Linked DNA regions of Homo sapiens: region 1 is linked to region 2. The links come from fine-mapping of genetic effects on gene expression. A gene starts in region 2. The other region holds a variant in brackets. All regions are shown on one strand. Distances are between the middles of the regions.

Region 1 (5,384 bases), 66 kb after region 2:
TGGATGTGCTATATAATTAGCTTAATAATTCCTGATTATTGGACAACTAGGTATATCTCATTGTTAACTACTTTTAACATATACATATTTGTGTATAAGCTTTTTATGCATTGTTTCTTATTTCTGTGTGTGTGTGTGTGTGTGTGTGTGTGTGACACAGTTTCATTCTTGTTGCCCAGGCTGGAGTGCAATGGCATGGTCTCAGCTTACTGCAACCTCAGCCTCCTGGGTTCGAGCGATTCTCCTGCCTCAGCCTCCTGAGTAGCTGGGATTACAGGCACCCGCCACCATGCCCAGCTAATTTTTTTGTATTTTTAGTAGAGACGGGGGTTTCACCATGTTGGCCAGGCTGGTCTTGAACTCCTGACCTGAGGTGATCTGCCTGCCTCAGCCTCCCAAAGTGCTGGGATTACAGGCATGGGCCACCGCGCCCAGCCTATTTATTATTTCTTTAGTACAAATTCCCAGAAATGGAATTACTGGGCCAAAGAGCATAAATATTTAAAGCTTTTAATATCTGTTACCAAATTTGCCATCCAAAAGCATATTGCCAGTTTATATTTCCAGCTTTACGCATATGACAGCCTCTTGTTTCTCCATAGCCTTGATAGCATTAGATATATTAAATTTTACAATTTCCCTAGTTTTAATAGCAAAAATTTGTGACATCTAAATTTTATTTTTTATTTTTAATAGTGAAGTTGAACATTTTGAGTAAGAATTAACTCTTAGTGATAGAAAAAGATAATCTTCCCACCACTTTGTGGCTTATAAAACCCTCTGTAATCTTATAGAGGGAAGTAGCAAAAGCCAGAAGAGAGACCAAAATATGACAAAGTGGGATCTCAGAGTTGTCTTAGATAATTAAGCTTTTTTCTTCCTGAATGGTTTCCTTTATAAGCCATCATATGTTGTCACTTTAATTAAGATCACCTGTGGCTTCTCTTTAATTAATCTAAATGTTCTCTTTCCTTCTTTCTCAGCCAGAAGTCATTGGATCTGTGTCACTTTCTTTGCGAGCTGTCATTCAATCAGAGCTGCTTTCTTTCAGTGATCAGCTTCCAGTGCAACAAGAAAATGGTCAGTCTCCATTTGGCCCCCTCAAGGTATGTAGATATACATTCAGGAAGTCAGAAGTATTTGCTGAGTATGCATTATTGGCTGGCACTGAGGATATAGCAGTGAACAAGAAAAGCAAGGTCTTTGATCTTGTGTAGCATCTCTTGAAATAGAGCAGTGGAAGTACTATGAAGGAAATAAATGGTATGATGTGATAGTGAGTACCTGTGAGAAAGTAGGAGATGGTGATCAGGGAGGATCTTTCTATGGAGGTGAAATAGAAGGTGAGATTTGAAGAATAAGAGGAGTAAGTAAAAAACACAGAGACCATTCCAGAGAGAATAACAGGTGCAACAGCCCTAAAGCAGGAGTGGGCTTGGAGTCATCAAGGGATAGAAAGTTGCCAGAGGATAGTGAGCAAGAGAGAGAGTGGTAGAAAGTAGGGTTGAACAGTCAGGTAGAAGCCATATCATCAGAGCTTTGTAGGTAAAGGTAAAGAGTTTAGATTTTAGCCTAAGATCCAAGGAAAGAATGTTGAAGCATGGGACTGACATCATCTGATTTCCATTTTACAAGATTACTGTGTGGAGAATAGACGGCAAGAGGAAAGAGGGAAATGGGCTGTGGCATTAGTCCAGAAAAGAGATGATTGATGGTGGCTTAGACTAGAGTAATTGAAATAAAGAAGGAGAGCAGTAACTAAGTGTGCCTGGTAGAATGAATTCTGGTATATAATTCATTGGAGAGAGGGTTATTTCCTTGTATTCAGGTGAGTTAGGATTTCTTAGATGACAGAATCTGAGCGTGTGGCTTCAGTATAGCTTTGTCCTGGTGAGTTTTAAAAATCAGCCGGGTGCAGTGGCTCAAGCCTGTAATCCCAGCACTTTGGGAAGCCAAGGCGGGCAGATTGCCGGAGCTCAGGAGTTCTAGACCAGCCTGGGCAACATGGCTAAACCACATGTCTACTAAAAATACAAAAATTAGCCAGGAGTGGTGGCACACGCCTGTAATCCCAGCTACTCGGGAGGCTGAGACACAAAAATCGTTTGAACCCAGGAGGCAGAGGTTGCAATGAGCCAAGGTTGCACCATTGCACTCCAGCCTGGGCGACAGAGCAAGACTCTGTCTCAAAAGAAAAAAAAAAATCATCACAGCCATGCCTAAAACATCCTGATGGCTCCCAATCACCCAAAGGATAAAGTACAAGGCTTAATATATGACCCTGGCCTACCATTTCAACCTTCTCTCTTACAGCTTCTCTACCAATAACTATGTCACTCTACGTAAAGAGTCAGTAAGGTATCATGCTGGTTCATGCCTCTGTGTTTTTGTTATTGATTATCATACTGCCTTTTCTTCTTGAAAGCCTTGTCTCTCTTCTTGGTCTTAGTAAATACCACTTTGCTTTAAAGACTTACACAATTATTATTGCAAAAAATTAACATCACCTACTCTTGCTATCCAAGTTATAGTTTTTGTCTGCCTGGTTCATTCTGAACTACAAAGTTTAAAATCAGAAAGGGGTTATAAATAGGATTGATCAACTAGAAATTTTTTCTGTTCTGGCTCTTTTGAGAGAAATACTATTCTGGATAGATTGCTGTCTATATTCAACAGAGTAAAAGAACCTTGCTATGTAACACTTAGGATTTCAGATCGAAGAAACAGCAAGAACCTTTTACCCCTAGTAATTGAGTCTCCTAACAGTTAGTGACCACTTCTGTTCTTTAAATTCATCATTTATCCTGC[T/A]TCCCTTTTCTTTTTTACTTTTTAATTATTTAGACTTTTTTATACCCTTTACTGAGACTCCCCAATTCTTACTATTTGTCACATTTTCTTTATAATTGTCTGTCTGCCTCTTCTCTGCCTCTCTCTCTCTGTCCCTTTATCTCCTCCCCCCATACATGTACATACACATTTTTTTGTGAACTATTTGAGAGTAAGTTGTACATCATGCCTCTTTCCCCCTAAATTCTTTAGTTTATATTTTATGTATTTCCTTAGAACAAGGACATCATCATGCATAATACTCTAGAGTTACAAAAGTCAGCATAGCATTGATACTATATCTGCAGGCTATACTGAGATTTCACCAATTATACCAGTGCCTTTATAGCAAATATTTTTTTCTAGTCCAGGATTATCTATTGCATTTTGTCAGATCTTCCTAATCTCCTTTAGTCAGGAACAGTTCTGCAGCCTTTCTTTATTTTTCAATATGCTGATATTTTTAAGTAATGCCAGTTATTTTAAAGAATGTTCCTCCACTGGGGTTAACCTGAATCACTTATTACTGTGATGATTGTCAAATGGTGATTTCTAACTCTACCGTCTCTTTTGCATTTATTAATTGGCATTCTATATAGAGAAGCTGTTTCTTCTCTCATATTTATTTTATATCAGGATGGATTCATGGATTCTTATTCAATAGTTTATAATCCATTACTGTTATTCATTCTGATGCTTAAGTTGTCCTAGATTTAGCCAGTGGGAGCCTCTTCAGCTGGATTCTGGGTCCTTTAAACATGGCTCCATTCTTTTCTGGGAACTATCTTATATTCTGGCATAACTTGATCTTCCAGGCTCATCTTTTGTTATTGATAAATCATCTGTCTAGTTTTTCTTAGTCTAGCAAGTTAATGTATATGCATTCTGTTAATATTCTTACTATTAGAGTGTTTGAGGATGAGTTAATTCATTTCCTAATAATCTGATGTTGTTTCCAGCCTCAAAATTCTAATTCCAATTCTAAAGGACATTCTTATTGACTCTTCTCCTTTTGTGTTTTACAGGTAACCATGGAGCTTATTACAGATAACAAAGATTTCACTGGTATCAATACTAAGTTAAGTGGCAACACCCATTATACCCCACTTTGTGCTCCTACAAGTCCAAATAAGGCACTACCAGAACTTAACCAAGATATGACCTGTACCAAAAATCCACAAAACTTAAACCAAATTCATGAGGAAACTGCAAAGAAAGCACAGAACTTGGTGCTCCCCAACCGAAAGTCACCAAGCCCTGTAGCACCACATCCTTCAACCTTCGTAGCTACGCCAGCCTCCCATAATTTAGTCAATCAGACAAATGGGACAACAAAAGAGAGTGCTTTGCTGTTGCATGTGCTGTTGATGGTGCCAGATGGGAAAGATTTTATTAGTGGAGAATCTGAGAAACAATCACCATGCAATGTTTATTTAAATTGTAAACTCTTCAGCACAGAGGAAGTCACCAGATCTGTCATCGCATGGGGCACAACACAACCGGTCTTTAACTTTTCTCAGGTAACTTTGTACATTCCATATCCATTAGAGGAATATAGGGGTGAGAGACAAATGCCTCCCAAATTATTATTTCGTCTTAAATCTAGAATGTTCAGACTAGAAGGAACCTTCGTAATTATCTGGTGTACAGATTCAGTCCCACTATTGGATGGGAAGAGGGAAAGGCATTGTCAACATTTTAAAACTGTTTGTCTTTATTTCTATTCTGTCTGAGTTCACATGGTTTCTCACTGTTTCTTTTGCCTGAGTTTTGGGATTCTATTCCTTTCTGCTTCCTCTAAGACTTTGATTAGTTAAACCTCCCCATCTTTCTCCAATCTCTCCTTCTTTATTACTTTATTTTATATATTTCTCCTCACATTTATTCTTCTGCCTACTTCAGTATTCATCTTAACTTGATTTTTCTGTGTAATGTGGTGCTTAAATTGTTTTCTTTCTTGGTTTTTGTAACTTTACTGTCTTAATTTCTTCCTCACTCAAAGCTGTTCTTTTTCAGTCATTGGGCCAGAAGGAAAACTAGGAAAAGGGTGGTAACCCCAGTACTTCTTCCTTTAACTGTTGGTGCTTCCACTCTTACTCTATTGCTGGCACTCTTCCAAATCAACCCACTTCTCCCCATGGTCATCACATCTATCAACACAGCTTCAGCACTCATTTTTATGAAGATAACTTCCATGTCTACATTTCTATATAAGCCAGACATTTCCTTTTAGTTTGAGATTTCTGTATCTAACTGCCTGCTGGTCATTATCACCTGGATATCTCAGAAGCAGTTTACACTTGGCACCTAACACATTGCCTGGCACATACTGGGTATTCAATAAAGATGTGTAAATGAAAGAATGAATTCAAACATGTTCAAATCTGAATTTATCACTTCTTCCAAATCTGTTCTTCCTCTTTTTGTCTGCCCTAATTCAAATTATAATTTACTCAGGCACCTAAGTAGAACCTGTTATTTGTCCTTGACTCTTTCTTATGTAATTACTTACCAAGTCTAATAGATACTACTAACTTAATTATCTGGAAGACATCCCT
Region 2 (5,384 bases):
GGAGGTGGAAGTTGCAGTGAGCCGAGATTGTGCCACTGCACTCTAGCCTGGGCAACAGAGTGAGACTCTGTCTCTAAAAAAAAATAAAATGAAAAGTAATAAAAAATAAAAACGATAAATTACTAACAATTATACAATCTTCTAATCAGCAGATTTTCCTTTTTTTTTCTCTCAGTATCTTCATTCAGTTCTTCAATCTTCAGAGAACTTGTTTCTCCAAGATGAGAAGCTGAGCTCTAATTAAGCTTATCTAAGGAATGTATAATTATTAAAAATCTGATTTTCTTATGTATTTGTATAGAAGGGTGCTGGTATACTGAAAAATCAAATTTATTTTAAGAAAGGCAGCAACTAAGATATTTAACAACAATTAATGTTACATTAATATTAAACTCCAGGTTAGTTTTCCCAAATAATGTTATGGGTCAGTTTCCAAATTCTCTTTATTCATGTTATAGTCCAACTTTTCTGTCTTCCAAAGCCAAAACAATCTTCACTTTACCTTCTATGTAGCCTTCTACCTCTATTGTGCGTCTATCTCTCTATCTCCTCCTGCTAAAGTTTTCTCATTTTTCTACTGCGTATCATAGCAGGTCTCCACTCAATTCTTAGTTTCCTTCCCTGGTTTTTCCACCCATTTTTCCCATTCCTTTACCCCACTGTTTTATAGGATTCTCCTTTCTTTTCATCCCTAGGACTTACTGTCACAGTACTGCATCTCCTACTCTCGCCTCCTTTTTGATAAGTTTTTACACATATTACTTCTTCAGAACCTAAGGTTTCTCTTCTGTAGTCCTTTTTCAAAGAATATCTACCAATTCATCTCTAGAATCCCAAATATACTCTGGAGCCCTCATACCTAAGTATCTTTCCTACTCCTTTTCTCTTTACAGTCACTAATTCCCAGAATCCTGTTTGAAACTACAAATATCCCCTCAAAACCAAATGCCTATTCAATTCTCTCCACTTTCCAGCAATTACTTCTCCCATGTTCACCTCATTCTTTCTCCTCGGCCCAAGTATCCCCTAACCTGGCACAAGCCATTTAACGATCTAAAATTCCAAAACCTATCTCTTCTACATGGCTCTCCTTCCTTTCCAGCAAACTATTTCTCGAACTCCCAATGCTTCACTAATTCAAAGTCTTAGGCCAGTACGTCGCTTCCCTCAGATCTACTAGCCCAGCAAAAACTGATTGCCCAAATCTTCCTCTAAGCTTCCCAGACCTTACAACTGCAGCACTTCCATTCACCAAACCGTATTTATAGTCATCTCTCAATCTTTAGAGCCTATGGTCACTCTGTAAATTCTTCAGTTCTCTCCTTCTTCTCTCTCCCTTATCCTGTCCAGCTTCTCACTCTGTAAATTCTTCAGTCCTCTCCTTCTTCTCTCTCCCTTATCCTGTCCAGCTTCTCAGCACATTCCTACTACCCTTAACAATCTTCGTGGCTATGTTCTCCACCTTACCTTAGGCCTACTCCCTAAACTTTCTCATTCTCCCTTAAGAGACCTAATCTCACCTCTCATTCGCTGAATCTGTCTTTACACCTCTGGGAATTCTCTAGAATCGTCTGCTTCCTAGTTCTCCTCTTTCCTTCTCCAGCCCTGTCTCGAGTGTTTTCTACCCCCCTCAGCTTTTCTAGTATCTAGTTCTCACAGTGCAGATATTAGAACTCTGATAATATCTACTCCTCCCAAACCTTTCCTTAGTTGTTGGCCCAATTCCCCTCAACTTTTCTCTCAGTCATTCCCCACTTCCCTCCACCTTCCCTGGCCGATTCTCCTCCACCTTTGTCACCGTTCTACTCCCTTTTCTAAGCCTCCTTTATTGTGGAAGTGATTCTCAGATCCCTTATGTTAGTCTCTCAGCTTCCCCAACCTTTGCCTCATTCCCCTCTCCCTTCAACAACGTTATTTTTCCTCCAATTTCTATTGACTTGGCGCCTCCCCTAGTACCCCAATCTGCCTTCTACTCCATCTAAATATCTCCAGGCCGCCAACATTTTCTCCTATCAGTAGACTCCTTTCCCGTGCCTCTATGAACGCCCAGAGATACCATTCTCCAACGGCTGGGGCCTGGCCCATAGGGAGAAGGGGTATGGGTCACGTACCCCATTCGCATCTTGGCTCCGCTCTGACTGCCCCCGCTGCCGGGTAGAGGTGGGCGAGAGGGAAGGCGGCCGAGGTGCATGCTCTTTTCGAGGGCCGACATCGAGGGGAGGCTGCACGCACGTAGTCAAACAGTAGGCGAAGCTTCGTCCCACGTTGAGTGTGGCCCAACCGGTCACGACTCGCTCCCCTAACGACGCCCTGTCGCCTTTGGACAGCACCCAGCTACCCGTAGCACCGCCTACCGCCCACCGGCTCCGTAAACTCCACCCACTCGCTTCAGCGCTTCCACCGGAAGTGCGCAACAGCACTCATACAAAGGAAGCTGGGTAACAGAGTATGAGAACTCCGCAGACTCCCGGCTGGGAACCCGACGACTTTCACCGGAAGGAGGAGCGCTCTTCAGGGCAATGCACCCTGCGCAATGGAGTCCACAAAGGGCGCATCCCTATGCGCTTGCGCAGCTGGAGGCGCCCCCCAGCCAACCCCGGAGAGGTATTGTAGCAAAGCGTCCTGGGTATTGTAGTGTATTGGAGGGAAGGCGTCTTGGCGCCTTCTCTTCGCACCGTTTTCCGGAGACTGTTAGAGGAAGAGTCGCTTTTTCCTGCCTCCCAGGCTGCCCAGCGGCGCCGGTTGCCGGGGAACGCAGGCGCCGTGGGGAGGGATGGCGGGAGGATACTGCTTAGGTGCTGGAGACGGAGTTGAGCTGGTGAAGAAGAGCTCGGGCTCATCATGAAACAACGAAAAGGCCAAGGGTCTGGGGGCAGCCGTGGGCGCAAAAAAAGAGGTAACCTGAGCGATCAAAGATTGAGGAAAGCGTAATAGGAGAGCAGGGTGTAAGGAATTTTAGGGAGACCCGCACCCCCGCTGGATAAACAAGAAAAGGGACGTAAGAAGGAAGTAGCCAGGGAACCAGAAGGTTAAAAGGAAGGGCAATTGGCCCTCCAGAGAATAGAAAGGAATTAGGGGCTGGGGTAGGGGCCACAGACAGGCGATTAATGAGATGAAGGTTACCGGTAGGATGACTGTAGAGGAGAAGAACAAACAATGATGGGATTGGTTTTGATAACGAAGTGAAATGTATGTGTGTGTGTAGCTTTCGAGGTCCACAGGGACAGGAAGAAACATAAATTGGCAAAGGGATTATATCATTTGTTGTGTGATTGTGGGCAAGAATCACGTTTTATACATTACTGAATGACCAAGGATTAGTACAAAGCAGGACTCGGTAAATGTTAGTTGAATGAATGAAGTATGAAGGGCTGACTATGAGCAGGAGTTGGGAAAAATAATTGTAGAGTATAGAGCCGGGAAGAGTGGGGAATGACAGGTGTGATAGGATTGGAGTGGGGGTAAGGGCATGACGATCTCCTGAAGGACCTGAGATCATGAAAGAGTGTGCAGCAGAGAGTCCTCATCAGGTTAGCAGCTCAAGGAGACACAAGCTCACCGAGTAGGGGATGTTAGCTGCAGTGAGAACAGTCAACCTAGGAACCCAGGGCAGATCAGGAAACTTGACATTGAATCTCTACAAGACTGCCTCGAAGGGAAAAAGGACAGTGGGTGACCCTGCCTTTTTGCATTGTAGGCAGTTTAGCGAGAAAAGAAGTATTGGGAACAGTGATAGGACATTAGGCCATTGGGTTGAGGACTGAAGCTACAATCTGGGAATTACTCTTATCCAAGCTGTTTAAAGATTACTAAGGCAGTTTTGAGATACTGACTTTCCTGCCAGGAAAGATAGGAGGATCTGAGACTGAAGCATACTAGTGCTCCCTGTGTCAAAACAGTTAAGCATGTTTGGTTGATAATCGGAAAGTCAAAGTAGAAATAATATAACATAGCATAGAACAGAATACACTTTTTGCTATACCATTTCCATATGTAGAAATGTATACACAACTGTGTATAATTTTTATGTTGAAACTATCCATAAGGATTATGGTGGGTCTTTTCTCCACTATAGAGGGCAGAGGCGGTGTTTGCATTAGAAGTCCAAATAATTAGTCCTGATCTGATACATTCCATATATTTTCTTCTTTGAGGCATAACCACTCCTCAAAGAAAAGTCAAAGGAAAAAAAAGGTATAAATAATATAGGAATGGTTTCTTAAATCTCCTTTAAGTTTTCCCGAAAAGGTACTATGAATGAAAGACAATCAGGGTCATTAAAGGAAAATTTTTTAGAAAGTCATGATTAATTGCTTTGTTTACACTTTAATGTCTTTATGAAACCCAATAAATACTAAAGCCAATAAATATATGAACCCAGCACTGTGTTAAAAATAGTGGCAGAATCTGAAGATTAGATAGTCTGTGTCCTCACTGACTGTGTGATCTTGGCAGGAAAGAAAAGTTACAATTTAAGACGTTCTTCATTGAAATGCTGAGTTGTATGATATAGTCTAAATCGTTTGTGAGTGAAGGGAGTTGTTGCTGTTTTATCGTTAGTGATTTTTTTAAAAGAGAGTTAGATAAAGATTACATATCTTAAAAACCATAGATGTTGCAATAATTAAAACAACTGTACTTAGAAAAATTTCAACCATACTTAGAAAAATGTCAACTACTTCTGATATTTGTATTTTTCAAATAGTAACTCAACTAAAGAAAAGTTTATATTAGTGTGTCTTTGTTGGTATGTTCTTAACTTAGAGTAAATCAAATCAAACCTTAAATACTAATTAGTTATCAGAGTGGCTTACATGACCAGATAGATTATTCGGTGGTCTGATTTGATAGTTACTTCTCATGTATTAGAATAATGGGTAGGATAAACCTTCTTTCTAAGTGGTGATAAATTGCTGAACTTAAGACTAAAGTGTTCTGTTTGTTTTCATTCAAAAAGCATATTATATGTTTTCTATATTTAGTCTAAATTTTGACTCAGTTTTCTTGGATTCCTCTACAGGTTTAAGTGACATTTCTCCATCTACAAGCCTGCCACCTCTGGTTGAAGGCCAGCTACGCTGTTTTCTAAAACTTACTGTTAATAGAGTCATATGGAAGATTGCAAAGCCTCCCACTTGTGTACTTGTCCGAGTGAGATGGTGGGGAGAAACATCAGATGGAACCCTCTTTTGTCCCAGGGATGCATTGCAGACTGAACCAAAAGCTGTGAGAACAACTACACGTTACGCTATTCGTTGTGGTCCAAAACAGTTTACCTCTTATCTAACAGGTATGTTATTGTTTTATCATTGCACCTGCAGACGTAATACAAAGCATGTGGTTATATTGTCAGCAATAAGTGTTGTTGTGTACCTAGCATATAT

Alleles and levels. Alleles are on the strand shown, and positions count from the first base shown. SD is a standard deviation of normalised expression in the study named.
For the expression in subcutaneous fat of the gene that starts at base 2,345 in region 2, T is the low allele of the variant in region 1 and A is the other (moderate effect, 0.46 SD a copy in GTEx).

The links.
Region 1: its variant is fine-mapped to the expression of PPME1 in subcutaneous fat (GTEx, PIP above 0.99).

The regions. Positions count from the first base shown.
Region 1 is chr11:74,102,093-74,107,476 of GRCh38, reverse strand. It overlaps C2CD3 (C2 domain containing 3 centriole elongation regulator), which reads left to right. Exons shown (of 33, transcript NM_001286577.2): 13 at 984-1,106; 14 at 3,852-4,346. Among named protein-coding and RNA genes, the nearest start is that of C2CD3, 66 kb to the left of the region's middle. The variant T/A (reference allele first, on the strand shown) is at 2,809.
Region 2 is chr11:74,168,250-74,173,633 of GRCh38, reverse strand. It overlaps PPME1 (protein phosphatase methylesterase 1), which reads right to left and starts at 2,345. Exons shown (of 14, transcript NM_016147.3): 1 at 2,112-2,345. The coding sequence starts at 2,212. C2CD3 (C2 domain containing 3 centriole elongation regulator) reads left to right here and starts at 2,632. Exons shown (of 33, transcript NM_001286577.2): 1 at 2,632-2,896; 2 at 5,021-5,290. The coding sequence starts at 2,842. RefSeq lists enhancers at 1,551-2,473, 2,251-2,700, 2,474-3,397.